Homo sapiens: one gene and its partners. The protein of the gene in region 1 purifies or fractionates together with the protein of each later gene. This does not show direct contact. Each region holds a gene or a part of one and is shown in the gene's direction. Other genes may lie near its edges. The genes, in order: SLC12A9, GRSF1, CLGN, EMC1, MRPS9, ATL3 and ARL8A.

The links.
Region 2: the proteins of SLC12A9 (region 1) and GRSF1 purify together in Homo sapiens (affinity purification with mass spectrometry; one large-scale study listed by BioGRID and IntAct). This does not show direct contact.
Region 3: the proteins of SLC12A9 (region 1) and CLGN purify together in Homo sapiens (co-immunoprecipitation; 2 studies listed by BioGRID and IntAct, with this or other methods). This does not show direct contact.
Region 4: the proteins of SLC12A9 (region 1) and EMC1 purify together in Homo sapiens (affinity purification with mass spectrometry; one large-scale study listed by BioGRID and IntAct). This does not show direct contact.
Region 5: the proteins of SLC12A9 (region 1) and MRPS9 purify together in Homo sapiens (affinity purification with mass spectrometry; one large-scale study listed by BioGRID and IntAct). This does not show direct contact.
Region 6: the proteins of SLC12A9 (region 1) and ATL3 purify together in Homo sapiens (affinity purification with mass spectrometry; one large-scale study listed by BioGRID and IntAct). This does not show direct contact.
Region 7: the proteins of SLC12A9 (region 1) and ARL8A purify together in Homo sapiens (affinity purification with mass spectrometry; one large-scale study listed by BioGRID and IntAct). This does not show direct contact.

The regions. Positions count from the first base shown.
Region 1 is NC_000007.14:100,858,784-100,863,016, forward strand, and holds part of SLC12A9 (solute carrier family 12 member 9), read left to right. Parts: intron 1-51; coding exon 52-159; intron 160-266; coding exon 267-378; intron 379-1,101; coding exon 1,102-1,259; intron 1,260-1,366; coding exon 1,367-1,449; intron 1,450-2,354; coding exon 2,355-2,479; intron 2,480-2,608; coding exon 2,609-2,801; intron 2,802-2,953; coding exon 2,954-3,128; intron 3,129-3,897; coding exon 3,898-4,044; intron 4,045-4,233. UniProt on the Homo sapiens protein: May be an inhibitor of SLC12A1. Seems to correspond to a subunit of a multimeric transport system and thus, additional subunits may be required for its function. May play a role in lysosomal ion flux and osmoregulation.
Region 2 is NC_000004.12:70,815,158-70,819,390, reverse strand, and holds the end of GRSF1 (G-rich sequence factor 1), read left to right. Parts: 3' UTR 1-3,608; downstream 3,609-4,233. UniProt on the Homo sapiens protein: Regulator of post-transcriptional mitochondrial gene expression, required for assembly of the mitochondrial ribosome and for recruitment of mRNA and lncRNA. Binds RNAs containing the 14 base G-rich element.
Region 3 is NC_000004.12:140,389,270-140,393,502, reverse strand, and holds part of CLGN (calmegin precursor), read left to right. Parts: intron 1-791; coding exon 792-917; intron 918-1,124; coding exon 1,125-1,284; intron 1,285-2,774; coding exon 2,775-2,875; intron 2,876-4,198; coding exon 4,199-4,233. UniProt on the Homo sapiens protein: Functions during spermatogenesis as a chaperone for a range of client proteins that are important for sperm adhesion onto the egg zona pellucida and for subsequent penetration of the zona pellucida.
Region 4 is NC_000001.11:19,245,025-19,248,524, reverse strand, and holds part of EMC1 (ER membrane protein complex subunit 1 isoform 1 precursor), read left to right. Parts: intron 1-3,494; coding exon 3,495-3,500. UniProt on the Homo sapiens protein: Part of the endoplasmic reticulum membrane protein complex (EMC) that enables the energy-independent insertion into endoplasmic reticulum membranes of newly synthesized membrane proteins.
Region 5 is NC_000002.12:105,093,116-105,097,348, forward strand, and holds part of MRPS9 (small ribosomal subunit protein uS9m), read left to right. Parts: intron 1-414; coding exon 415-523; intron 524-3,936; exon of another isoform or gene 3,937-4,039; coding exon 4,040-4,209; exon of another isoform or gene 4,210-4,233.
Region 6 is NC_000011.10:63,629,636-63,633,868, reverse strand, and holds part of ATL3 (atlastin-3), read left to right. Parts: intron 1-771; coding exon 772-843; intron 844-1,046; exon of another isoform or gene 1,047-1,675; intron 1,676-2,397; coding exon 2,398-2,829; intron 2,830-4,233. UniProt on the Homo sapiens protein: Atlastin-3 (ATL3) is a membrane-anchored GTPase that mediates the GTP-dependent fusion of endoplasmic reticulum (ER) membranes, maintaining the continuous ER network. It facilitates the formation of three-way junctions where ER tubules intersect.
Region 7 is NC_000001.11:202,137,756-202,141,988, reverse strand, and holds part of ARL8A (ADP-ribosylation factor-like protein 8A), read left to right. Parts: intron 1-3,540; coding exon 3,541-3,621; intron 3,622-3,950; coding exon 3,951-4,024; intron 4,025-4,233. UniProt on the Homo sapiens protein: Plays a role in lysosome motility. In neurons, mediates the anterograde axonal long-range transport of presynaptic lysosome-related vesicles required for presynaptic biogenesis and synaptic function. May play a role in chromosome segregation.

The DNA.
Region 1 (4,233 bases):
ATCCCTGAGACGGATGCTGATGCACTCTCCTCCCTGGGAGGATCCTCCTAGCTGGCTATGCTGAGGACTACACCACGGGAGCCGTGATGAATTTTGCCAGCGTCTTTGCTGTCCTCTTTAACGGCTGTACAGGCATCATGGCTGGGGCCAACATGTCAGGTGAGAGTCCCTGCCTGCTGCCTCCTGGGGGTTTGGGGCTGCCACCGTGAGGGACCCAGGGGGATGGCTGGAGGGCTGACCTCACTCCCTCTGCTCCCCCTCTCCAGGGGAGCTGAAGGACCCCAGCCGGGCGATCCCTCTGGGCACGATCGTCGCCGTCGCCTACACCTTCTTCGTCTATGTCCTGCTTTTCTTTCTCTCCAGCTTCACTTGTGACAGGTGTCTGGGGAGGGATGGGGGTGGAGTGTCGAACAAGATTGGTGCACCTGGGTCACCAAGGGGAAACACAGGCTGGGGGACTGGGAAGCAGAAACCCAGCTTGTTGGGGTGGAGGGTGGCTACCGGCGATTGACAACCTATAGCCAGCAGCTGCCATGGACCCAGTACTGTTGCAGGCACTTAGCTTGGGAGTGAGGGTGGGTAGTGGCTTTCTACCCAGTTTGCATTTCCACAAATATTTGGCCTCTTGTGCATATACCATTAGGTATGACAGCCGGGTGCGGTGGCTCACACCTGTAATCCCAGCACTTTGGGAGGCTGAGGCAGGAGGATCGCTGGAGCCCAGGAGTTCCAGACCAGCCTGGGCAACAGAGCAAGAGCCTCCCCCCAAATACAAAAATTAGCCAGGTGTGATGGCAAATGCTTGTAGTCTTGGCTACTTGGGAGGCTGAGGTGGGAGGATTGCTTGAGTCCAAGAGGTCGAGGCTGCAGTGAGCTATGATTACAGCACTGCACTTTAGCCTGGGGGTTGGAGTGAGACCTTGTCTCTTAAAAAAAAGGAAGGAATGACCACTGAGTGATTAAATCCAAGGCTGCCCAATGAATACCAGGCATATCCCTTTAGCACATTTGATATCTGAGTCTGATCCTTAAGATCGGGGCTGGAGATTTTCTTACCCCGTGACGCATGATCATCCGTGTCCTCCTTTTCCTCCTTCCTAGGACCCTGCTGCAGGAAGACTATGGGTTCTTCCGCGCCATCAGCCTGTGGCCCCCACTGGTGTTGATCGGAATCTATGCCACAGCGCTCTCAGCGTCCATGAGCTCGCTCATTGGTGCCTCCCGCATCCTCCATGCCCTGGCCCGGGATGACCTCTTTGGTGGGTTCTCTGCCTCCTTGCTGGCTTGGAGCACGCCCTCCCTTGTCTGTCTCTCCGTCCCCGCTGAGCCCTGGCTGATGTGTCTGCTGTGGATTCTGTTTTTCTAGGCGTGATCTTGGCACCGGCCAAGGTTGTGTCCCGAGGGGGAAACCCCTGGGCAGCTGTACTTTATTCTTGGGGCCTGGTGCAGGTGAGCCTTCTTCTTCAAGGGGCCCTTTCCCTCACCCCACCAGCTGGCAGGATGGGGGTGCAGTTAGATGCAGGCTGGGAGACAAATGTAAAGACAAATGCGTATGCACTTGGGGTTGCACTGGCACTCTGCAGGGTTCACTGGCACTTTGTGGGGTTCACCAGCACCTTGCAGGTTGCCCCAGTGCTTTGCAGAGTTCATTGGCACCCTGGGAGGTTCACTGGCACTTTTTGGGGTACACGGGCATTGTGCAGGGTTCACTGACACTTTTTGGGGTATACTAGTATTTTTCAGTATTCACTGGCACTTTGTGGGGTGCCCCAGCACTTTGAGGGATTCACTGGCACTCTGTGGGATGTACCAACACTTTGTGGGGGTTCACTGATACTTTGGAGGTTTGGTGGCACTCTGTGGGAGTGCATTGGCCCTTTCTGGGGATCACTGACATTGGGGGTGCACTTGCACTTTACAGGGCTCACGGGCACTTTTCAGGGTTCATTGACACTTTGGGGTGCACTGGCACTCTCTGGGGTTCATTGACACTTTGGGGGTGCGCTGGCACTTTGCATGGTTCACTGGTACTTTCCAGGGTTCACTGACACTTTGGGGGTACACTGGCACTTTCTGGGGTTCACTGACACTGGGGATACACTGGCACTTTTGGGGTTTAATAGCATTTTAGGGGCTCATTGACACTTTGGGGGTGCACTGGCACTTTTGGGGTTTAATAGCATTTTGGGGGTTCATTGACACTTTGGGGGTGCACTGGCACTTTGCAGGGTTCACTGGCACTTTCTGGGGCTCATTGACACTTTGGGGTACACTGGCATTCTTTGGTGTTCACTGGCATTTTGGGGGTGCACTGGCACTTTGGAACAACGGCACGCCTCTTGGCCCTTGCCCAGCTGGTGCTCCTGGCTGGGAAGCTGAACACACTGGCTGCTGTGGTCACTGTCTTCTACCTGGTGGCCTATGCTGCCGTGGACCTGTCCTGCCTGAGCCTGGAGTGGGCCTCGGCCCCCAACTTCCGGTGAGAGACTCAGATCTGTGTCCCCAGAGAGAAGAAGGGAGGACTCGGGCTCAGGCGTGGGGCTGGGGACTGCAGCCTCGTGTGCGGCCTGCCCTGAGTTTCTGTCCCTCCTCCCCTCCATGCCCGCAGCCCCACCTTCAGCCTGTTCTCCTGGCACACCTGCCTGCTGGGGGTGGCCTCCTGCCTGCTCATGATGTTCCTCATCAGTCCTGGCGCGGCTGGTGGCTCCCTGCTCCTCATGGGTCTGCTGGCTGCCCTGCTCACCGCGCGAGGAGGCCCCAGTAGCTGGGGCTATGTCAGCCAGGCCTTGCTTTTCCACCAGGTATGGGGAGCTGGTGGGGCGGTGGGGAAATGGGAGGTGGTCAAAGAACCCCCTCTCTCTTTGGCTGGAGTTGGTGCTCCCGTCCAGGAGGCGCTGAACGGGGCTGTGCATTTGATCCTGCCACTTCCCCACTGCCTCACCCCTATACCCAGGTGCGTAAGTATCTGCTTCGGCTGGACGTCCGGAAGGATCACGTGAAGTTCTGGCGGCCCCAGCTGCTGCTCCTGGTGGGGAACCCCCGGGGCGCCCTGCCTCTGCTGCGGTTGGCCAACCAGCTTAAGAAGGGGGGGCTGTATGTGCTGGGCCACGTCACCCTGGGAGACCTCGGTGAGCTGCCCTCCCACTCACTCACTCACTCCCATCCTTCTCTCCCCCTACCTTTTTTTTTTTTTTGAGATGGAGCTTCGTTCTGTTGCCCAGGCTGGAGTGCAGTGGGACGATCTTGGCTCACTGCAACCTCCACCTCCCAGGTTCAAGTAATTCTCCTGCCTTAGCCTCCTGAGCTGGGATTACAGGCACACACCATCATGCCTGGCTAGTTTTTGTATTTTTAGTAGAGAAGGGGTTTCACCATGTTGGCCAAGCTAGTCTCGAACTCCTGACCTCAAGTGCTCCGCCCATCTCGGCCTCCCAAAGTGCTGGAATTGTAGGTGTGAGCCACCACGGCCAGAACCCCTCCCCCGCTTTTTTTTGAGACAAGGTCTTGCTCTGTCACCCAGGCTGGAGAGCAGTGGTGCCATCATAGTTCACTGCAGCCTCAACCTCTTGGGCTCAAGTAATCCTCCTGCCTTGGCCTCCTGAGTAGCTGGGACTACAGGTGTGTGCCACCAGGCCTGGCTCATTTGTAGAGATGAGGTCTCTTTATGTTTCCCAGGCTGTCTGGAACTCCTGGCTCAAGCAGCCCTCCCACCTTGGCTTCCCAAAGGGCAGGGATTACAGGCATGAGCCCCGACACCAGCCCCTCTGCCCCTTTTATCCTTTCCCATGACCCCTCCAAGTAGCCATAGCCCTGCCCAGGCCCGTCTGTGATTTGGACTCTAGGAGACATTGAGTTTGGACAACACTGGCTACCTTCCTTTCCTTATCTTCTCTGTAGACTCCCTGCCCTCGGACCCTGTACAGCCGCAGTATGGGGCATGGCTCAGCCTGGTGGACCGTGCCCAGGTGAAGGCTTTTGTGGATCTAACCCTCTCACCCTCCGTGCGCCAGGGGGCTCAGCATCTGCTGCGAATCTCCGGCCTCGGTGAGCTGCTTCTCCCTGGATGCCCTCGGCCTTCCTCTGTGGCCACTTCAAATCTCCGCTCCCCTCCCCTAGAGAGTCAGCCACAGATTGCAAACTGCAAAAGGACCTTATAGTCGAGAGGAGATAAGACAGTGCTCAAAGATAATAGCCTCAGACAGTGTGTGATAAGGTCTAATAGGAGATGCTAGG
Region 2 (4,233 bases), on another chromosome or scaffold:
AGCTTAACATCATCAGTAGTACTGCCTAGATGGAAATGCGTTTTCATATATGGTTGAATATGCCAAGCTATGAGAACTGGTATCTGTAGTTGTACGAACTATTAGAATGTGATCTTTGTTGCTCTTTCACATTTGGTATCTGATTTGCTGTGGAAAAGATCTGTGGGGCCTACTGTGAGGAATTCATCTGCAATTGATTTAAGCTAATGAGTTTTATTTGCACATCTCTGGAAAAAGAATGCAAGCAAAGCATTAAAATGCTATATGATGGATGGGTAAGGTTGAAAGGATATATCTTCTTGGCACGCTACAGGCTGAGTTTTCTGTACAAAATGTGGCCATTATTGGGAAATCATTTTATGTATTTGAATGCTCCCTTTTGTTTTTGTTCATGATCTAGGCTAGTACGTAAGTGATTGCTAAGGTGGATGTAGTTATGGGAAAGGAAGAGAAGCACATAATACAGTAAAAGTAATCTTATTTCCATGCAAGTGGAAGACGGTACCGTCTCCCCACATTTGAGAAGACTGTTTTGCATCACTCTTTGCTATTGAAGGAAGCAGTGATGGTGAATTTCCTTCTGTTTGGGTTCCTTGTGTCTATAACTTCCTTTGTGGTAAAGCCATCAGGAAGAATAGTGGGAGTGGGGCATATGGTCAGGGTGCTCATATCCTGCTTTAGCCTAGCTGCTGCTTACGGAGTGCAAGGGAGAACTCTGAGAAGCAGTATGTAAATACCAGGGAGCTGATTGCTGAATATTGTGGTCTCATCTGAATATTGTGGTCTCATCTAAATATTGACACCAGGCAATGAAGCAGAAATAGAGTATGTGTCCCTTTATGCGTGGGTAACTTAAGCTTCTGTCATGTGGGAAGGGGGACCGAATCTTCCCTGGGAGGAAGGCTCCAAATTCTCACTACTTCTGTGTTACTTGAAGGGGGAAGCATAAGGAACCCAGTTTGAAGGCAACATTGTGTGCCATGAATCTGCTTATTAATCAACATGCCTTGTTAATGTCCTCTGCCCTGAACAGCCCTTACTCAGTTCTCATTTGGAAAGTTATTTTTTGGGGTTACATCCTGTTTGTTTCAGAATTTAAAACCCTCCATGGTGGGTCACTTGAGGTCAGGAGTTCAAGATTAGCCTGGCCAACTTAGTGAAACTCCGGCTCTACTGAAAATGCAAAAATTAGCCAGGTGTGGCACACGCCTGTAATCCCAGTTACTTGGGAGGCCAAGGCAGGAGAATCGCTTGAACCTGGGAGGCAGAGGTTGTAGCGAGCCAAGATCACACCATTGCACTCCAGCCTGGGCAACAGAGTGAGACTCTGTCAAAATCAAAAAAACCAAAATACAAAAAACTCCATTGTTCTGAGAGTTTCCCCTAAATTATCGGAAGACACTCACATTGAATTGGTAGGACCTATAGTATAGAGGAGAATGGTATGTATGTCAGCAGTAGAGTTCCAATCCAAATTGCGCTATCGCATTAGAAATACATTACCCTCCCACTCCCCAAGTTCAGCAAATTAGAAGAGAATCTGAAGTTTGTAGGAAGGGAATAAAGCTGCTATAAACATTTATGTGCAGGTTTTTGTGTAGACTCGTTTTCAGCTCCTTTGGGTAAATACCAAGGAACCAGGTTGCTGGATTGTAAGTTAAGAGTATGTTTAGTTTTGGAAGAAACTGCCAAACTGTTCCAACATGACTATTTTGAATTCCCATTGACAATGAATAAGAGTTCCTGTAGCTCCTCACCCTCATTAGTATTTGGTGATGTCACTCTTGCATTTTAGCTAATGGGTGAATAGTGGTCTCATCGTTTTAATTCCCAATCCCATAGTGATGTGGAGCACCTTTTCATATACTTAATCTGCCATCCTTATATCATCATTGGTGAGGTGTCTGGATTTTCTGTCCAGAATTTTAGTTCTAGTGGTTTTCTTATTTTTAGAAAGGAAGTATAGGAAGGAAGGTTTAATCTGTCTTAAGCCTGATTATATGAAAATCAAGAATAGGCTAGGTGTGGTGGCTGACATCTGTAATCCCCGCACTTTGTGAGGCTGAAGTGGGAGGACTGCTTGAGCCTGGGAAGTCAAGCCTGCAGTGAGCCATGACTGTTGCTGCACTCCAGCCTGAGTGACAGAGTGAGACCCTGTCTCAGAAAAAAAAAAAGCAGGCTCATTTTAAAGTTGTTTATATTTTATTTTTTGAAGGAAATAAACTTGAAGAGATACAAACGGTAGTGAAGATTCTCCTTCCCCTCCTGTAATTCAGCTGTTTAGTTTCTATTCTCGCACAGCCCTGTTATCAGTTTCTAGTGTAAGCTTGCAGTGACTTTTACTTTATTTATAAGCAAGTGTTAGTGGGTGTTGTCATTTCTTTTAAAAATATAAATTATACTGTACATGCTATTTTGTATTTTGGCTTTTCTCCCACCTAAACACCCTAAAGATCATTTTCTGTCAGTATATAAAATCTTGGTGATGCCAATACCCATCCCTTAGATTGTACAAGCAGCATTTTGCCATGCTTTATCCCATAGCCTGCCTCCTGCAGTCTCATCTTTTTTTCTATATGCATGTCCAAGTAAGTTGTAGACATTTTTCACTTTTAATCCTTTCAGCATACATGTCATGGGAATTTGTTTTTGTTTTTGTTTTTTGTGTTTGAGACAGTCGCTCTGTCACCCAGGCTGGAGTTATAGTGACGTGATCCCAGCTCATTACAGCCTCCACCTCCCAGTTTCAAGCAATTCTCATGCCTCAGATTCCCGAGTAGCTGGGATTACAGATGTGCACCACCACGCCTGACTAATTTTTGTATTTTTAGTAGAGATGGGGTTTCATCATGTTGGCCAGGCTGGTCTGGAACTCCTGGCCTCCAGTCATTTGCCTGCCTCGGCCTCCCAAAGTGCTGGGATTACAGGCATCAGCCACCACACCCAGCCGTCATTGGAGTTTTTTTGAGGGAGATTTGCAGTAAGGTGAATAAATGTTAAGTGTATCATTTGATGAGGTTTTTTCTTTTTTTTTTTTTTTTTTTGAGATGGAGTCTTGTATCGCCCAGGCTAGAGTGCAGTGGCCTGGTCTTGGCTCACTGCAACCTCCACCTCCTGGGTTCAAGGGAGTCTCCTGCCTCAGCCTCCCGAGTAGCTGGGATTACAGGTGTGAGCCACCATACCCAGACTCATTTGATGAGTTTTGATGTAAAAGCATGTAACTCAAACCCCTATGTCTGGAACATCTGTATTACATCTGAATTTTTTCACCTAGTCAATTCCTGCACCTCTCTCTCCTGTCCCTTCTTCCCTCCCCTGGCAGTCAGCTACTGTTAGGATTTTGTTCACTGTAGATTAATTTTGCCTATTCTAGAACTTCATATAACGGACTCACTTATGCAGTATGTATTCTGTAAGTTCCTTTTACTCAGCATGTTTGTATGTTCATCAGTGTGTTTAAGCTTTGTTCCTTTTTATGGCTGAGCAGTGTTCTATGTATGAATGCCACATTTTAACGTTTCACCTGTTAGGTGAACAACTAACTGGTGAACAATGGGCTGTTTCTAGTTTGGGGCTATCATGAATAAAGTTGGTATGAACATGTACAACCTTTTTGTGAACCTACATTTTAATTTAATTTAATTTGGATAAGTATTTAGGAGTGAGATTATCCTGAGTTGATGTATTTTAAATTTTACTAGAAGACGACAAACCTTTTCCTAAATGGTTATCCTGGTTTACATTCCCAGAGTTCTAGTAGGTCCATATCCTTACCATTTGCTGTTGTCAGTCTATAATTTTAGCCATTGTGTAGTGGTATCTTCTGGTTTTAATTTGCATTCCCTGACAATGAATAGTACTTTTTCATAAGCTTACTAGCCATTTGGATATCTTTAGTAAAGTTGAAGTGTCTGTTTCTTCTCTTATTCAGGATGTTTTGCCATCCATTTATTTTTTTCTTATTTGCTGAAGAAATAAGATTAACCTGTAGGTTTCCATAATCTGAGTTTGGCTGATTGCCTTTGTGTGATGTTTATTAACCGCTTTTCTATTGGCTTTGGTCTTTTAACTAATCTGCAGGAGTACTTTGTTCCTATAGTGAGCTTTAAATACCTTTTCCCCCCAGTTTGTCCTCTTTGTTTGCTCATGATGGCAGAAACTATTTTTACATCGCTGAATTCTTAAATCTCCCCTTTTATAGTTTCAAGGTTTTATGTCAGCATTAGAACATCT
Region 3 (4,233 bases), on another chromosome or scaffold:
AATGATAATCTAAATATTACTGTTTATTTAACTATTTTTTACTTAGAGGAATGTACAAAGAATTTATAGTTTAACATTATTAAATTCTGTTCCAGTTTTTTCCCGAAACCTTAACACTGTTTAGAAAAGGTTGGGCTAAATATTTCAACACAATGCATCTTAGAAAATGTATCATTAAATTCAGTTGCTATAAAGAAAAATTCTTACCTTACATTTGGTTCCTTGGGTCACTAGCGAAAAACCATCAAAAGAGTAGGTGAAGAGGGATTCTTGTTTTGAACCTCTTGTAACTAAAACATTTGATTTTTTAAATTTTATTTTAATAAGAGAAATAATATCCTTACTGAGGGTCTTATGTGTGAAATGTGTTTATATAAAAAAGAAAACAATTCTGAGGTATGATTTTTAGTAAGTTCTTTAAAAGTACAGAATGAATGATCAGAGTACAGAATGAATGATCACTTCAAATAAACCAGGTAATACATCCATAAAAGGTAGTTCTATTCTGAAATTTACCAAAAAGGAAAATTACCATTTTTCTTGCCAGTATGTTAGAAGTTTCCACTTTTGTCATAACATACCTTCTGCTATCAAGTCTCACTCAGTGATGCATGCTAATAATTAAATTAGACTTTACAAAGTATAAGGTGGGAAAATGAAACTTCTTTTACTTACGAGTTCATCACTCCTTAATGTAAAATGCCTGAGTAAATAAGTTTTTTTGTATCTTGTGTTACCCAGTAAAGGTTTGTAAAATTTGAATTGCATTTTTATGCTTATCTCGTCTATAGCCTGGTGTATTAAAACAGTTAATGGCAGCTGCTGAAGGGCACCCATGGCTTTGGTTGATTTATCTTGTGACAGCAGGAGTGCCAATAGCATTAATTACTTCATTTTGTTGGCCAAGAAAAGTAAAGGTAAAGAAAATGGATTTCCTTCAACTTTTTTCACCCAAATTTCTTGTTGTTTAAGAGTTCTATAAATTAAGCGATTCTTAAAAGTAATAAACTAAATGTCTCATAAGTTTTACTGATAGTTCATTATGTATGTTATCAATTATTGCAAAAAAACTTTCAAAATAGCACTCTGCCTTTAGTAAAAATAACTTATGTTAACTACCACAGAAAAAACATAAAGATACAGAGTATAAAAAAACCGACATATGTATACCACAAACAAAAGGAGTACTAGAGCAAGAAGAAAAGGAAGAGAAAGCAGCCCTGGAAAAACCAATGGACCTGGAAGAGGAAAAAAAGCAAAATGATGGTGAAATGCTTGAAAAAGGTAAGATGATGAGAGTGATTTATAATGGAGACTCTGGGTAAAGCTCATAAAACTGTATATGGCCTTGAAATAACTAGTTATTATACTTGTTTATTATCAAGTTTATACATCTGAATCTCCCAAGAATATGTGACTGTGGCAAGAAGGAATAATAGTCCTCTGAGCAGCCACCCTGTTTATAGTTTTTGCATTCTAGGAAGAAGGAGATTTAAATAGTGTTCAGTTGCTTGAGAGCCTAGCAGTTAATGAATCCCATAGGCCATAGCTTTTTGCAAGGATGTTTCTTGGCTCTGGGAGTGTAGAAGATGAGATGGAGGGTGATAGAGGGTGTATATCATGGCCTCTGTAGAAAAGGAATAGATATAAAACAGATGATTGCAGCAACAAAATCAACACCAAGTCTTCCAACAGCTATTGTTAGTCAGATGCTTATCATATAGAAGAAATAATTTAATTAATTTTCTGAAAGGATTGCTGAACCTATATCCCCTTCTCACCCTATGTTAAACTCTTGAAGATGTTAGAACTGAAGTCACCCTTTGGTGGCTGTCCGCTGAGACCTCCTTACATAAGGTAGAAATAAAACTATTGATTTGCCCAGTGTCCCAAGCCAAATGTCTTGAAGCACAGTGTTTAACTCACTTAATGAAACAGTTGACTTAAAAACACATATGTGTCTATCTATTTTTTAAGAGACAGTATATATATATATACACACATATACATACACATGTTCATGTGTGTATTAGGATAGGTATCTAAAACAACAAATGTTTCAGGTTGTAAGTTTCCAGCCTTGTTTTTGTAACTTCTTAGTGCTTAGTATATTGATGTCTGGATCAGCCTTATTTAGAGGGAATTTAAGTATCGGAGGGGCCTGCTTGTATAAAGGTACTTTCACCACTTTCATCTATACACGTAGTCCCACATTGGAACTACGTAGAAGAAGTAGAGTTGATTTTTCAACTTCCCTTTCCCCAAAGCCCATTCTTGGTAGGGTAGGAGTTTTTACTTTATATAGCTCCTAGGACGTGCTTAATATCTTTTGGTTAATAATGATGACAAAAGTTGGAGGTTCTGCTAAATGGAATCCTAAGGAGGGTCAATAACTGAAAAAATGCATGATGTCCACAGAGAACAAACATAAGTAAATAACATATTGAAGATTAAAAGATCACCAAAAATTAAAGGAAGTATTTTCCAAGACAGGAACACAGGAAAGATTATTATTTTTTGGTTTTCATATTACATACAGACTGAATGCTTAAGAATTTTTTAAACTTGTCCCCAAACTCAAATATGATTCATTTATAAAATATGATAATATAATGAGTATTTATAATTTTTAAAATTTTGAATGGAAGAAGTTGCTTCTAAATCTTGGAATAAATCTTGGAATTTAAATAAATCCCATTTATTGTATTTAATACTTTTCAGTAGCAAAATTCTAATTTATTGAGTCTTTGCTTTTAACAAAATCTGTATTCTAGAAGAGGAAAGTGAACCTGAGGAAAAGAGTGAAGAAGAAATTGAAATCATAGAAGGGCAAGAAGAAAGTAATCAATCAAATAAGTCTGGGTCAGAGGATGAGGTAACAGAAAATAAGCTGGTTTCTATGTATAGTTGTTATCCATAAAAAGTTTTTTCAATAAAAGCACCAATATGATTTATGAAAGAATTTTTGCCATATTTCTCTCAGCTTTTATAAGAGCCTCTATATTGTTTTTAAAACATATCCATAAGGAAGGAAAGAAAAATACTGTAATTTATATTGTCTCAATGCCTAGTAAAACAGTATAGAGCAAGCCTGTGGCGTACAAAATATAAAGATAGAATACATGTATCCAAAATTATGACTTTCTCATTGAAATTCTATTGAAAAGCATAATAAACACATTGTTTGAATATTTAAAAGATAATTATCATTATTATAATTTTTATAGCTGTTGTAAAACATCTTTATTGTCTCAACATTTTACTCTCACGTTTTAAAATATTTCATTCATTGGGTAGTTGAGTACTATCTGCCTGATAGGGTATTTTTCTCAAATCTTTAGTGAACTTTTCTCCCCCCTTATTAGTCTACCCCTTTTTGTGTCCTGATATAAAATGGAACTTTGCACAATGCTTTTTTTTTGTAAGTTATTATGGAATGAGAAATCCCGAGTATAATTAGAGCCAGAGCTGTCTTTTTTCTTTTTTGTTTTTAATCCAGCATAAACCAAAAACCAGTTTTCTCTGGCCCTTAAAGAGCTGGGTAGCCTTACCCCACAGAGTCACCATCCTAACATATTACATTCCAACTATGTAGGTAGGATAAAAGTACAGTTCTGCCTGCTCTTGCATGTGATGAAATGAATTTTGTATTTTATCTATTTAAAGAAATCCTCCAAATAAATTTGCAATTATTGTTAAGTCTTTCCTAATGTTTAATCAGTACACATACTGTTTGCTGGTCTTCCTGCCCTCTGAGTTTTTATAGGGACTTTGGGACCATTATTTAGTATGAATATCCATATTTAGGGAGAGCTAGGTGAAGAGAATTTCTTCCAGAGCCAAGTTTTAAATAATCATTGTTTCTGCTGTGACTTTCTTAAAATAATACCTGCAGTCATTTACTTGAATATGTATTCTATTTACATTTACTTTACAAAATATTTTGTGTACCTTCGAAAACATCTTAATTCCATCTTTCAGTCTTTCCGTCTTCTTATGTGTATGTGTCAGTGAGCTGGAATACATCGATTTTTGTATAGCCTTGAGAAATAACTATAACTTTATTTCATATAATACCTTCATAATAGCACTTGATTGATAGCACATATATTTTAGAGAATAATAAATATATTGTTTACTACTATCTACTAGTTATGTGTTATACTAAAAGAAACCTTTTCATAATTATTTTTTCTAGATGAAAGAAGCAGATGAGAGCACAGGATCTGGAGA
Region 4 (3,500 bases), on another chromosome or scaffold:
TTACTTGAACCTGGGAGACGGAGGTTGCAGTGAGTTGAGATCACGCCACTGCACTCAGCCTGGCAACAGAGCGAGACTCCATCTCAGAAACAAAACAAAACAAAACAAAAAACAGGTTGGGCAATATGGCGAAACCCCATTTCTGCAAAGCATACAAAAATTAGCCGGGCATGGTGGTGGGTGCCTGTAGTCCCAGCTACTCGGGAGGCTGAGGTGGGAGGATCACCTAAGCCTGGGAGGTCGTGGCTGTAGTGAGCTGTGATGGTGCCTCTGTACTCCAGTCTGGGTGACAGAGTAAGAGCATCTCAAAAAACAAGCAAACAAAAAACAAACTAAGACACAAACACATTAGCCTGGGCCTAAATAGGGTCAGGATCATCAATATCACTGTCTTCCACCTCCACATACTGTCTTACTGGCAGGTTTTCAGGAGCAGTAACACCCATGGAGCTATCATCTGTGATAACAATGCCTGTTTCTGGAATACCTCTTTTTTTTTTTGGGACAGAGTCTTACTCTGTCGCTCAGCCTGGAGTGAAGTGGCATGATCTCAGCTCACTACAACCTCCACCTCCCGGGTTCAAGTGATTCTCATGTCTCAGCCTCCCAAGTAGCTGGGACTGTGGTGCACAGCACTATGCCTGGCTAATTTTTGTATTTTTAGTAGAAATGGGGTTTCACCATGTTGGCCAGGCTGTTCTTGAACTCCTGACCTCAGGTGATCTGCTCGCCTCCGCCTCCCAAAGTGCTGGGATTATAGGCATGAGCCACTGCGGCCAGCTTGGAATACCTCTTGAAGCACCTGCATGAGACTATTTTACAGTTAATTTTCTTTTAATAAGTAGAAGGAGTACTCTAACCATAAAAAGTAGATACGTAAACCAGTAACACAGTCATTTATTATCATTGTCAAGTATTATGTAGTATACATTATTGAATATGCTGTACTTTTATACAGCTGGCAGTACAGTGGGTTTGTTTACACCACCTTCACCGCAAACGTGATTAATGCATTCGACTACAATGTTATAGCAGCTACAATGTTACTAGGTTATAGGAATTTTTCAGCTCCATTATACTCTTGTGTGACCACCACTGTATATGCTGTATATGCGATCAATCATTGACTGAAACATTGTTTTGCAGTGCATGACTGTATAGTAAAACGTTAAAAGTATATGTACAAAGCTGGGCACAATGGCATGCACCTGAAATCCCAGCTACTTGGGAGGCTGAGATGGGAGTATTACTTGAGCCCAGGAGTTCAATCCAGCCTAGGCAGCACAGTGAGATCCCATCTCAAATAATAAAAAGTGTATCTATAGTGGTGGTTGTATTAGTTTTCTCAGGCTGCTATAATGAAATACCATAGACTAGGTGGCTTAAACAATAGAAATTGATATTCTCACAGTTCTGGAGGCTGGAAATTCAAGATCAAGGCATTGGCAGGTTTTGTTTCCTCTGAGGCCTCGCTCATTGGCTTGCAAAAGGCTGCCTTCTTGCTGTATCCTTACATGGCCTTTACTGTGCTTACACATCCCTGATGTCTCTTCCTCTATTGGATTAAGGCCTCACCCTTTTGACTTTATTAAAACATAATTACATTTTTAAAGGCCTTGCCGTCAAATACTGTAACACTGGGGGATAGGGTTTCAACACAGGAGTTTTTGAGGATACAATTCAATCCAGAAGAGTGATATATTACATTTTAAAATTTTTATTATTTATTTATTTTTTATTGTTTTGAGACAGAGTCTTGCTCTGTCACCCACGCCGGAGTACAGTGGCATGATCTTGGCTCACTGCAACCTCCGCTTCCAGGGTTCAAACGATTTTCCTGCCTTAGCCTCCCAAGTAGCTGGGATTATAGGTGCCCATCACGCCCAGCTAATTTTTGTACTTTTATAAGAGATGGAGTTTTACCATGTTGGCCAGGCTGGTCTCAAACTCCGGACCTCAAGTGTTCGGCATGCCTGGACCTTCCAAAGTGCTGAGATTACAGGTGTGAGCCACCGTGCCTGGTGGAGATTTTTAAATTGTTATAAGTGTTCCCCCCACCCACTCATTTTCTGTAATAAGGAGGCATTACTTTTATATCCAGATAAAACAACAGTATTTTATTTACTTATTTATTTGAGACAGAGGCCCACTCTGTCGCCCAGGATGGAGTTCAGTGACACGATCTTGGATCACTGCAACCTCTGCTTCCTGAGTTCAAGCGATTCTTTTGCCTCAGCCTCCCGAGTAGTTGGGATGACAGGCACGTGCCACCACGCCCAGCTAATTTTTGCATTTTTAGTAGAGATGGGTTCTCACCAAGTTGGCCAGCTGGTCTCGAACTCCTGATCTTAAATGATCCACCCACCTTGGCCTCCCAAAGTGCTGGGATTATAGGCGTGAGCCACTGCGCCTGGCCTGTTTATTTTTTTGAGACAGAGTCTTGTCAGGTTGGAGTGCAATGGTGTGATCTCGGCTCACTGCAGCCTCGACCTCCTGGGCTCAAGCGATCCTAATCGAGAAAATTATTAGCCTCACATGGTAGGCTACCAAGTACAAAGGAGGTGCTTGCTCTGTGCTGTTAAGAAGTGCTGTGATCTCAGTCGGGCGTGGTGACTCACGCCTGTAATCCCAACACTTTGGAAGGCCGAGGCGGGTGGGTCAGTTGAGGTCAGGAGTTCGAGACCAGCCTGGCCAACATGGTGAAACCCCATGTCTACTAAAAATACAAAAAAATTAGCCGGGCGTGGTGGCAGGTGCCTGTAATCCCAGCTACTCGGGAGGCTGAGATAGGAGAATCGCTTGAACCTGGGAGGTGGAGGTTGCAGTGAGCTGAGATTGCACCATTGCACTCCAGCCTGGGGGACAAGAGTGAGACTTCGTCTCAAAAAAAAAAAAAAGAAAGGTAAGGTGCCCTTTTGGGTGTCACTTATCTGAAGGTAAATATGTGCTTCCATTTAGAAGGAAGAGTTAGTATTATCTATTAGGAGCTAATTTTCTTCTCTTACTCTCTTTGCATCTGACTACATTGAATGGAAATCTTGCTTTTGGTCAGAGCTCTTCACTAACAAACACTTCTTTTTTTTGAGATGGAGTTTTGCTCTTGTTGCCCAGGCTGAAGTGCAATGGTGCGATCTCAGCTCACTGCAACCTCCGCCTCCCGGGTTCCAGCAATTCTCCTGCCTCAGCCTCCCGAGTAGCTGGGATTACAGGCATGCGCCACCATGCCCAGCTAATTTTGTATTTTTCATAGAGACAGACGGGGTTTCTCCATGTTGATCAGGTTGGTCTCGAACTCCTGACCTCAGGTGATCTGCCTGCCTCGGCCTCCCAAAGTGTTGGGATTACAGGTGTGAGCCACTGCGCCCAGCTAACAAACACGTCTTATGTGTCCTAAAATGAATGTGATGGTGATAGCCCTGTGATTTTTTTTCCGGAGCATTTTGTGGAATGGTGATTTTAGCTCCTTATGGTCCCCTGTACTCTTTTTTTCTCAGGAGACA
Region 5 (4,233 bases), on another chromosome or scaffold:
TTTTTTTATTTCTACTAGTTATATTTCATCATACTATTTATATATTTCTAAAACTTATGTTGTTAGATATATTCTTACTGTTTATAAAAGAAGAATGCTATGTAAATTGGTTGTGGATTCTCGTAAGGGAAATGAATATAAATTACTTTGTTGGTTGTTCAAACTAATTTAAAATCATTGTAGTGTTTCTAAAATGGAATTGAAGAACAAAATTACCCCACAATGAGCTTTATTGCATCTGTTGTGCTGTAGTTTACCTGCTTTATTTTTGTTTGACTTGAAATAATAGTTATAGGACTTGCTTATGTACAGTGTTGTGTATTATTTTGGGGAAACAAATTTTAATGTAGTTTTACCTGTCTCAAAGCGCAGGTCTTCAAGATATTTACTAATAGGAATTTTATATTTTTGAAGGTAAAAGAAAGACTGCAAAAGCAGAAGCAATTGTTTATAAACATGGAAGTGGAAGAATAAAAGTAAATGGAATTGATTACCAGCTTTACTTCCCGATCACACAGGACAGGTTCGTTTTGGGTTCTGATTTTTTGTTTTTAAAGGAAACATACTTTATAATACATCATGATCATTTAAGAAGGCTTGTGATCTTCTAATTCTGTTTATCTGAATGATTATTTCTCTTTACCAATGTAACATATCAAACTAGCTAATTGAAGCTATTTTTTAAAGCAGCTTCCAGATTTTTTAAAAAGCATCTCTAGAATTCCTCATTAATTGACTCTTCTTCCCCTTTTCATCAGATCCTACTGCAGTTTGAGTAGTCTTAGATGTAGCTTATGTTCTGAAGTGCAGACTGTGCCAAAATGTAAAAAATTTTGATTTAGATTTCCACCTTCTAGTTTGGGGATGGGCGTGCACAAAACAAAACCACCACCACAACAACCAGCCTTGGCACTTAAAACTGACCTAACTCACAAGGCAAAGAAAAGTGCAAGTAATTTCTTGTGGCTTGTGTATGTTTTTCTGATCATAAATATTAGAAAAATTCTGCTTTATCATTTTGGATTTTTTCCTATTCAGAGGAATGTGATTATATATATTGAGCAAGCAAAGAAACCTAGCATTTATGGGTTAAAATAAGAACTCATCAGGCTTTGCTTAGTTCTGGGTGCTAAATATGGCAGTTTTAATTTTTAAACTTTGTATCCTATGGAGAAATAGACATTAATCATAAATAGATACTACAGCTCTTCTAATCTAAATATACTCATCTCAGAACTCTCTCTGACTTGCTATATAAAGGCCTCTTCTTGATATGGTTATTATTTTCCCAGTACTTACTGTCATTATCCACGAGTAACAGAAGTTTGGTATGATTAGTTCCTCCTTTCCTAATCCTTCTCCTGTTTCCTGCATGTGTTACGGTATTTAAGGTCAAAAGGGCTAAAACTCTTTTGATACCAATGCTGATATAGGCAAAAGAGGACCCTCCTAATACAGTGTAAGCTTCTGGACACAATAATTATTTTAGGAAATGTGTGTTTATTTTATTTGTGTGTGCCTGTGTCAACAAGCAGTGCATTCTTAACTCCATTTAAGATGAATTAGTTCTGCTATTATCCTCACAGGACAGGGGATGGAAGAAGCTTTTATTTCCCTTAGGAAAAGCCAGAGAGAAACCCATACCCCAGGGTTTGATAACTTCAACATTGGGAACTATAGGAGGACTGTTCTTTAACCAATAACCTGTCTGTTGATTTGTATTCAGACATAACTCCTGATGATTTAACAGCAAGTCTCAATTCTGGCTTGATCTCATAATGAAATTACATCTTTAGATCTTATTCTTTGGTTTGAATTCAGCAGCTTTTTACTAAGGACATCTATGTCTCCAGTCTTGTTCTGGGCATTGTGAAGATATCAGAGATATTTAAGATATGATTCCTATTGTCAAGAAACTTCCTACATGGTTGGGAAGCCTAAGCCTAGTCTTGGTGGGAATGGGCACCTACAACTATTTTAAAGTAGTTGTAAGGATTTAGGGCAGTCACTTCAGGAACTTACAAATCAGCAGTGAGGTGACCATTGACTAATAGGAAGACTAACCAACCCAGAATCAGGGATCTTGATCGGAATTCTGTCATCACCTAACACACAGTGAAGTGGGTTAGCCACGTAAGTGAAGTTACAAGGGAGGCTTCTGGACAGCCATTTGTTTGGGAGCTTAAACACTTTCCTGGCTTAATTTTTAAAATTTTATGATTCTTTAACAAATGCTTATATAAATAAAAAGAGACTTCAATTAAAATCTAGAAAAATAGATTTCATAATGTAATTACTGGATATATAACTGAGTCATGGAGCCAGATGGTCGAGGTAAATGCAATAGTGGAATTAGATTTTCAGTCTGTACATTTTTTTTTTCTTTTTTTTTTTTTTTTGAGATGGAGTTTCGCTCTTGTTGCCCAGGCTGGAGTACAGTGGTGCAATCTTGGCTCACCACAACCTCCGCCTCCTGGGTTCAAGCAATTCTCCTGCCTCAGCCTCCTGAGTAGCTGGGATTACAGGCATGCACCACCATGCCTGGCTAGTTTTGTATTTTTAGTAGAGACGGCGTTTCTCCATGTTGGTCAGACTGGTCTCAAACTCCCGACCTCAGGTGATCTGCCCGCCTCGGCCTCCCAAAGTGCTGGGATTACAGGCATGAGCCACTGCGCCCAGCCTAAATTTTCTTTTATATTTACTTTTTTTTTTTAAGAGACAAGGTCTCTTTATGTCACCCAGGCTGGACTCAAACTTCTGGACCCAGACTGGACTCAAGCTGCTGGGCTCAAGCAGTCCTCCCACCTCAGCCTCCTGAGTAGCTTGTACTTTAGGTGCTCAGCTTAAATTTTCTTTAGTTATCATAGTATATTAATAGATACTACTTATAATACTGTTTTTATAACTTATGGCTACTTTTCATTTGGTTTCTTGGAAGCATTTGTTCAAAAAGACAGTATAGATTTATGAGTTTTTTGTTGTTGTAGGAGTTATGTCATCCCTACATCGTATTGTTATAAATTCCGATTTGCTATGGCTTTTGAAAGTCATCTTTTGCCCATCTGCTTGTGATTATTTTACTAGTGTGGTATGAAGAATAGCACTTGAATGTCCTGTCCATACCTGTCTCTCAGCTTAACTGTGTTATATAAACTTGATTTTGGGTCTAGAAGCTACAGCATCAAAGAAAGCAAACGCAATATAAGTGAGCTTTTCTGCATAAAAGTGTAGCAAGATATTAAGGCAAAATAGCAAAATCAAAGTGCTTGACAGAGGTAATGGTGAACATCTTACCTGGCGTGAAAATGATATTCAACAAATACTTGTTCAGTTGAGCAGGAGAAAGTCCAGGGCCGTGTTTTGTCTGTGGTGCCTGCCCCAGGATCTTGTAGGCCCTGACCGACCCTGAAAGAGCAGGCCTGACAGGGGTTGTGTAGAATGTCACCTGGCCCCAGGAAGGTAGCAGGACCCTATGATTTAGAGAACTTTAAGAATATTGGGAATAGGTGTTTGGTGTCAGGGAAGTGCAAGGTCGAAAATAGTTTTAGAAACTTTAAAAACTAACCATATCAAGATGAGCATTATACATTATACAGATACACTTATAGTAGACTTTATTTAGTGAATCCAAATGACATGTGATAATTGTTTGGAAAGGCCTATTGATTTTATATCTGATCATTCAATCCAGAGACATTAAATTCAGTTGATTAATGGAGTTCCCCAACTGTAAGACTTCTTTACGAGATTATTTTCAAGCTTTGAAAAGATCTTCTGAGATAAAGGGGATCAGCAAACAGTAAGAGTGTGTTGCTATACCCAAGCAAAAGAAATAAATCTTAATCTCTCAGCAAATCATTCAAAATGTCAGAAATGTTAGTGTTTCTATATCTTGGTAAAATGGATTGATTGAGAAGTATGAAAAGTATAACAGTGGCATGCAGAATATTGTTTTTATGAATATTCAGAATTTCAGTTGTTTACATAATTATGTATCTTTATAGTAAACGTAACCACATTTACTTGTGCTGTGCTTTAGAGAACAGCTGATGTTCCCTTTCCACTTTGTTGACCGGCTGGGAAAGCACGACGTGACCTGCACAGTCTCAGGGGGCGGGAGGTCAGCGCAGGCTGGAGCAATACGACTGGCAATGGCAAAAGCCTTGTGCAGCTTTGTCACCGAGGACGAGGTCGAGTGGATGAGACAAGGTATGAGTCTAGGTGGGACGGGCA
Region 6 (4,233 bases), on another chromosome or scaffold:
TAGAGATGGGGTTTCAACATGTTGGCCAGGCTGGTCTTGAACTCCTGACCTTATGATCCGCCAGCCTCGGCCTCCCAAAGTGCCAAAGTGCTGGGATTACAGGCGTGAGCCACCACGCCCAACCTTTCCTTCTTCTTTTTTTTTTTTTTTTGACTCACATCTATTTCTTAAAGTTGGAGCAATGGAGCCAGGTGTGGTGGCTTACTCCTGTAATCCCAGCACTTTGGGAGGCTGAGGTGGGCAGATCACTTGAGCCTGGGAGTTCAACATCAGCTTGGGCAATATAGGGAGACTCTAGCTCTGCAAAACAAAAACTTAAAAAGTTAGCCAAGCGTGGTGGCACGCACTGGCAGGAGGATGGCTTGCATTCAGGAGGCGAAGGTTGTAGTGTGCTGAGATTACCACTGAACTCCAGCCTGGGTGACAGAGTGAGGCTCTGTCTTAAAAAAAAAGAAAAATTTAAACAATTAAAAAATAAATTGATGCAATGGAAATAATATTTTCCTTGAATTTTGGAGATTTAATTTTTGCTAAAGATTCTTATGTATAAGAATACATATTTCTATGTATATGAACTTCTACCTTTTTTTGGTAGAAAATTTGGCAGAAAAAGTGTATTCTATTTCATCAGTTGAACTATATGGAAATCTAGAAAAATAGAAGGTTAATAAAAAAGGAAGAATGGGGAATAGAGAAGATTTTTGTTAGGTTATTTGTGGAGGAATGTTAAAAGAGGAAGGATTTACAGTTCACGTTTTTCTCTCTTAAAAGGCCACTGCTGAAGCCAACAACTTAGCAGCTGCAGCCTCTGCCAAGGACATTTATTATAACAACATGGAAGAGGTACGTGGGACATACGCCTTATTCTGAAATATCTATAATCTGGGCATTGTTGCTGACTTCAAAAGCCCAACTTGATCCTACTTAATGTATCTTTAAGTGATGAGGCAATAAACTTATATTCAGGTTGTCCTGGTAACGGGGGCCTTCTAATTATTACCATTTCTTTGTTTGTTTGTTTGTTCTTGTTTTGTTTTGTTTTGTTTTGAATAGCAAATAGTTTATTGGTAAGTACATAGTTTCAATGGGAGTAATAAATTCACATGAGCAGGAGACAATAATCAAGTCAAAAGAATAAATGCTTACTAATCATCAGAAAATCTGTGGCCATTAAGGCTGGCACATAAAAATCCAAAATCACTCAGAGGCCGAATCTTAAAAGAAGATTCGTCCTCTTATTAGTTCATATGGAATAGGTCCATAGTAACTGGAATCTGTAGAATTCTGTAGATTTATCACCTTCTAACCAAACATGACCCACTGGGACATAACTGTAGCTTTTAAAGAAATCTGATGGACTAGTGGTGAGGATTTTGTCTCCTTCCAAACCAGTTACTCTTTTACAAATATTTGATGTTGGATCACTTGGGCTTTTTGCAATCACAATGTCACCTCTTTGGATACTATCAAAATGTCGACTAAGATTTTGTGCAAAGACAGTATCTGAATTTTGAATTGTAGGCTCCATTGATGGTCCAGAACACATGACAACACCACCAACGTATTCAGAAGCACAGTGAGCTATACAGCCATACTGAATAGCATAGCCAACAAGTCAGAAGGTTTCCCCAGAGCACCACGAAGCATAGTTCTATGTAGACTCTGCCACCATTGGTCATAGATCTGTTCTATAATTCATTTAATTTTTAGGGAAGTCGCAGGGCTTCCAGAAAAAAAAAATTAAAGCATGTCTCAAAGCGTATGTGGGTGATCCATGATTTCAGGAATCCTCGGGTCCCAAAGAACCCTGAGGACCCTCAACCAGGACACAGGTGGGCCTTTCTCACCTGGGCCCTGCAGAAGTCGACCGTTTGCTTTTGTTTTTTAGAGACGGAGTCTCACTCTGTCGCCCAGGCTGGAGTGCAGTGGTGCGATCTCGGCTCACTGCAACCTCCGCCTCCCGGGTTCAAGCGGTTCTCCTGCCTCAGCCTTCTGAGTAGCTGGGATTACAGGTGCCTGCCATCACGCCCGGCTAATTTTTTTTGTGTTAGTAGAGACGGAGTTTCACCATGTTTACCAGGCTGATTTCAAACTCCTGACCTCAAGTGATCTGCCCGCCCTGGCCTCCGAAAGTGCTGGGATTACAGGCGTGAGCCACCGCACCCGTCCCAGTGTCACTGCTCTTTCCAATTGATATTATCACCCTGGTTTTTTAAGTGTGCTTTTCAGAGGAAGTGAAACTAGACTTTATTGGTCTTAGTCATCTTTTAAAAGTTAACTTATTAATACATTGTTAACATCTTAAAACATTCTAATCCTTTCATTATCTTTTCATGTTTTATTTGGCACTTGTTTTTGAAGAGATCTTTTAACATATTGTTTCTTTGTTCTTTTTAGGTTTGTGGGGGAGAGAAACCTTATTTGTCTCCAGACATTCTAGAGGAGAAGCACTGTGAATTCAAACAACTTGCTCTGGACCATTTTAAGAAGACCAAGAAGATGGGTGGGAAGGATTTCAGCTTTCGTTACCAGCAGGAGCTGGAGGAGGAAATCAAGGAATTATATGAGAACTTCTGCAAGCACAATGGTAGCAAGAACGTCTTCAGCACCTTCCGAACCCCTGCAGTGCTGTTCACGGGCATTGTAGCTTTGTACATAGCCTCAGGCCTCACTGGCTTCATAGGTCTTGAGGTTGTAGCCCAGTTGTTCAACTGTATGGTTGGACTACTGTTAATAGCACTCCTCACCTGGGGCTACATCAGGTATTCTGGTCAATATCGTGAGCTGGGCGGAGCTATTGATTTTGGTGCCGCATATGTGTTGGAGCAGGTAAGTGGTGCTGCTGAAGAGCCTGAGGGTTGATAATGGGCAGATATTTGTGCTTCTGTTGTAAAATATCTCAGTTTGGAAGAATTTCATAGTGAAGACATGAGACAGTGGCCACTCCGTTGGCTGTTGTTTTCTGATAGACTGTATGTTTTATTATCCTTTAGGATATTAATATTTATTCTTAATATTTTGTTTCCATGTCTAAAAAGGCCCCCGCCCCGCTTTTTTTTTTTTTTTTTGAGACAAAGTCTCGCTGTGCTCTCTTGCCCAGGCTGGAGTCCAGTGGCATGATCTTGGCTCACTGCAACCTCCGCCTCCCAGGTTCAAGTGATTCTCTTGCGTCAGCCTCCCAAGTAGCTGAGACTACAGGTGTGTGCCACCACGGCCCGCTAGTTTTTGTATTTTTAATAGAGACAGGGTTTCACCATGTTGACCAGGCTGGTCTCGAACTCCTGACCTCATGGTCCGCCTGCCTCGGCCTCCCAAAGTGCTGGGATTACAGGTGTGAGCCACCGTGCCCAGCCCAAAAATAGCCCTTTAATGCAAAAACATTCCAACTTAGACATACTGATTGTGTTCCCCTTTGGCAACTTTTTTTTTTTTTTTTTTTTTTGAGACAGATTTTTACGCTTTTGCCCAGGCTGGAGTGAAGTGGTGTGATCTTGGCTCACTGCAACCTCTGCCCACTGGGTTCAAGTGATTCTCTTGCCTCAGCCTCCCAAGAGTAGCTGGGATTATAGGTGCCTGACACCATGCCCAGTTAATTTCTGTATTTTTTTTTTTTTTTTTAGTAGAGACAGTGTTTTGCCATGTTAGCTAGGCTGGTCTTGAACTCCTGACCTCAGGTGATCCACCCACCTCGGCCTCCCAAAGTGCTAGGATTATAGGCATGAGCTATTGCGCCTGGTCGGCAACTTCTAATTACATGCTCTTCAGACATAATTTTTATGTGATTCTCACTTCTCACCCCCTCTAGATTAATTTACTTCATTGAAAAGCAAGAACTTTGAAAAAATTATGAACTTAACGAAAAATGTTCGGTTTTGAGTCCTACTGGATTAGGAAAGGGATGGTATCTTTTTTATTTAAAAATCTTCCAAAAGCCAGTGGCTTGGTTATTTATTTATTGGGTTGCTTATTTATTTATTTATAAAATTTTTTTTGGAGACGAGGTCTTGCTTTGTCACCCAGGCTGGTATCTTAGCTCATTGTAACTTAAAACTCCTGGGCTCAAGTGATCCTCCCACCTCAGCCTCCCAAGCAGCCGGTGTTACAGGCGAGTGCCACCACACCTGACTAACCCAGTAGCTCTTGGACATTGACATGGTCACAAGTTTTGTAGATCTTTGAGATGATACATTTGTTTTTCTGAGTAACATGAACAGGTGAGTTGGGTTAGCAGCT
Region 7 (4,233 bases), on another chromosome or scaffold:
GGCTGAGGCAAGAGAATTGCTTGAACCCAGGAGGCGGAGGCTGCAGTGAGTTAAGATCGTGCCGCCACTGCACTCCAGCCTGGGCAACAAGAGCGAAACTCCGTCTCAAAAAAAAAAAAGGAACCTAAAACATCCTTTGAGTTCTGAAAAAGTTGTGATGCTAGAAAAGTGGGAGATGTTTTGTCCTAGGAAACAACAGGGTCATTTTCAAATATTTAAAAGTGTCAAAGACTGTCCTATGGAATAACTAGTCTTGGAGTGCCCAAGGGGACTTAGGAACAATGGGTGGACATTCTAGGAATGATAGATTTTTTTTTCTTTTTTTTCTTTTTTCTTTTTTTTTTTTGAGACAGAGTGTTGCTCTATCACCCAGGCTGGGAGTGCAGTGGTACAGTCTCGGCTCACTGCAACCTCCGCCTCCCAGGCTCAAGCAATTCTCCTGCCTCAGTCTCCCGAGTAGCTGGGATTACAGGCATACACCACCATGCCTGGCTAATTTTTGTATTTTTAGTAGAGATGGGGTTTCGTCATGTTGGCCAGGCTGGTCTCGAACCCCTGACCTCAGGTGATCTGCCTGCCTCAGCCTCCCAAAGTGCTGGGATTACAGGTATGAGCCACCATGTCCGGCCGGATTGTTAACTCAATATAAAGAACTTTCTGATAGTTGGAACTGACCCAAGAGGGGATGGGGCAGAAGGGACTGAAGTCTGAGACAAGAGGTTGGGCTGCATGACTTCAGGTTACTTCCAACCTTAAATGAGGAGCCTATGAGACAGGGAGGCATTAGCAGGGAAATTAAGTCATAATCTGATTCCACCTTAGCTCCGATTCACAGCTGAACAAGACCTACTGGTGCCGGGGAGCCTGGCTCCTTGAAGGTCCTCCCAGCATCCCCCTCTGCCAAGGTCACATTCTGCCAGGCTGGGCTTCTCATTTACTTGGTAGCCTGTGGATCTTCTAGTTGCCAAAGAGCAGTGATGGTTCCCCATGCTATATCGAAACCATTTCCAAGCATGTTGTGAGTCTTATTTACAGTTCCTAGGAGACCGAAACCCTTCTCCCCAGTTTTACATTCAGAAACACTGAGGTCCAGAGAAGTTCAAGTTTCTTATCCAAGCACCCCCTGGGATGAGAGACAAACAAGAACTGGGCCTCCTTCCTCAGACTCTATTGTTGGGGATGGGGTAGACTGCAGCAGGCTGCCGGGGTTTGGGTAATTACAGCACACTTAATTCTCCCTGCTTAGCTAGAAGAAGCCATTCCCTCTTCCTCAGTGGTTCCTAACTTTGGGGGCTCTCAGAACTTTTTGATATCTGAAAGAAGTGAGAGACCCTTTCTCCAGAAAAATGTACACACAAACAAAACTTTGCACACACACAGATTGTGTACAGTTTCAGGGGGTTCAGGGGATCTCTGAAGCCCAACTGTGGACCTCAGGTTGGAAACCGCTGCTGGACCTTGTCATTGGGTGTCAGTCCTGGGTACTCAGTTCTTATATCATCCTAAGGCCCTGATGAATAGGTGGTTCCTGCAGATAAAAGGGAATTGGGCTGGGCGCGGTGGCTCACGCCTGTAATCCCAGCACTTTGGGAGGCCGAGGTGGGCGGATCACGAGGTCAGGAGATCGAAACCATCCTGGCCAACATGGTGAAACCCCGAATCTACTAAAAATACAAAAAAAAAAAAAAAAAATTAGCTAGGCATGGTGGCACGCGCCTGTAGTCCCAGCTACTTGGGAGGCTGAGGCAGGAGAACTGCTTGAACCCAGGAGGCAGAGGCTACAGTGAGCCGAGATCACACCACTGCACTCCTGCCTGGGCGAGAGAGTGAGACTCCGTCTCAAAAAAAAAAAAGGGAATCAAAGCAGTCTATTCAGATGGGATATCAGGGGTCTTCATGTGGACATGGAGGCACCAAATAAGAGCCAATCATCTCCTACATCTTGGCTAATGGTCAGGGCCCCTGATCTCTTTATGTAACCCAAGGCAAATTATTCCTACCAGCTGGTGGGAGAAAAAGGCATGGTAAAGGAACAGGGCTTGGCCGGGCACCGTGGCTCACCCCTATAATCCCAGCGCTTTGGGAGGCCCAGGTAGGCAGATCACTTGAGGTCAGGAGTTCAAGACCATCCTGGCCAATGTGGTGAAACCCTGTCTCTACTAAAAATACAAAAATTAGCTGGGTGTGGTGGCACATGCCTGTGGTCTCAGCTACTGGGGAGGCTGAGGCAGGAGACCCTCGCTTGAGCCCAGGAGGCAGAGGCTGCAGTGAGCTGAGATCACATCACTGCACTCCAGCCTGGGCCATAGAGCGAGACTCTGTCTCAGAAAAAAAAAAAAAAAAAAAAAAAAAAAAAGGAACAGGGCTATCACCCTCAGGTTCAATGTTGAATGAGCCTCATCTTTTTTTTTTTCTCAAGCCGGAGTCTTGCTCTGTCACCCAGGCTGGAGTACAATGGCATGATCTCGGCTCACTGCAACCTCCACCTCCTGGGTTCAAGCGATTCACCTGCCTCAGCCTCCCAAGTAGCTGGGATTACAGGCACACGCCACCACACCCGGCTAATTTTTTGTATCTTTAGTAGAGATGGGGTTTCACCATGTTGATCAGGATGGTCTCAAACTCCTGACCTCGTGATCTGCCCCCTCAGCCTCCCAAAGTGCTGGGATTACAGGTGTGAGCCATCGCGCCCGGCCGAGCCCCATCTCTTTAGCCTGCTTCCAAGGGATAAGCAGAAGTGTCCTACCTGTGAACATGGAGATATGACCTGGGAGGGAGTTGGGTCTGGCCTTATTTGAAGACTGTAGGTAGTTTAGAAGAATCCAGAAATCCTAGAGACAATACAGAATGGATTTTGGAAAATGGAATTACAGTCAAACCCCCAGTATTCAGCAAACATTTACTAATGGTGTTACTATAGACCTGGGTCCTCTCCCAGGAAGTGTTCTTTCTAGTGAGGAGACACATAGATAAATAAGCAGACGATATAGAGTGTAGGTTATCCTTCCCAATAACTGGAGTACAGTACAAATAAACTGAACCATGGATAATCCAGAAATTGCTTGGCATGCACTGCATTTTCAGGATGACCAATATACTCTGCCCTAAAAAGTTTGATTTTTTAGTTTGAAAATTCATCTGCTTTCTTTGAGATCCTCCTTAACTATTAGAACATGACTTGCTTCAAGTTCTCTTGCTGGAAGGTAATTTCTTCTTCCTCTCCACTGGAGAGAAAGTGGCGTCAGTTACTACAGAGAGATGTAGGTTAGACTTGAGGAAGAATTTTCCCCTAGTCTAGGCAAAGAGATTGAGACTGTCTGACAAAAGCGGGTCTTTTCACAGGGCATCCCCAGGTGTAGGCGGGACACATAGGTTGGTGATAGCCCATCCTGCCTGAAAGCACAGGATGTGCAAGAGTACCCCACAGTGGGAAGTCTAGGAAGCTCTGGCCTGGCCTCTGCATGGTTCTCGCAGCCTCTTGGTCTGCGGTGGGGGCATATCGATTTTTGCACTGTTTCCCATTCTGAGTCTTCTTTCCAGTCAGGACAGTTCAACGAGGACATGATCCCCACCGTGGGTTTCAACATGCGCAAAATCACCAAAGGGAATGTGACTATCAAGGTGAGGGCCCAGAAGCTTGGGGGGTGCAGAGGACTGTTTTTGTGTGTGTGTGTGTGTGTGTGTGTGTGTGTGTTGGGGAGGGCAACGGAGGCCCCTGGGAGGAGCGAGCTGAAGTGGGGCAGAGGCCAGGGTCCCCCTGCTGAGGAGCTGGGAAAAGACAGTAGAAGACTTCTAAGGTAGACGGAGAGCGGGTGGAGACGGGGGAGAACTGGAGAGGAAGCCGGGGAGGCAGAGGAGAGTAGGGCAGGGTAGGAGGGGGCATTTGAGACCCAAGACACGTTTTGGTGGCCTGCCCACTACTGAGGCTATCTCACCCTCTTCTTGCTCAGCTCTGGGACATTGGGGGACAGCCGCGTTTCCGCAGCATGTGGGAGCGCTACTGCCGAGGAGTGAGCGCCATCGTGTAAGTACACGGGAGGCATCGCCAGACTCCAGCCTTACCCGGCCCCCCTAGCCCTGCTACCTTCGAGGACCTCAGAGGCGCAGGGTTTTATTAGACATAATCCTTGGTTCATGACACAGTGTCGGTCCAGGGCCTGCGTTTATTTTGCATGCCACTTGTTTCTTATTGGATAAATGCCCTGGGCACTCACTACCCAATCTAAGAAACAG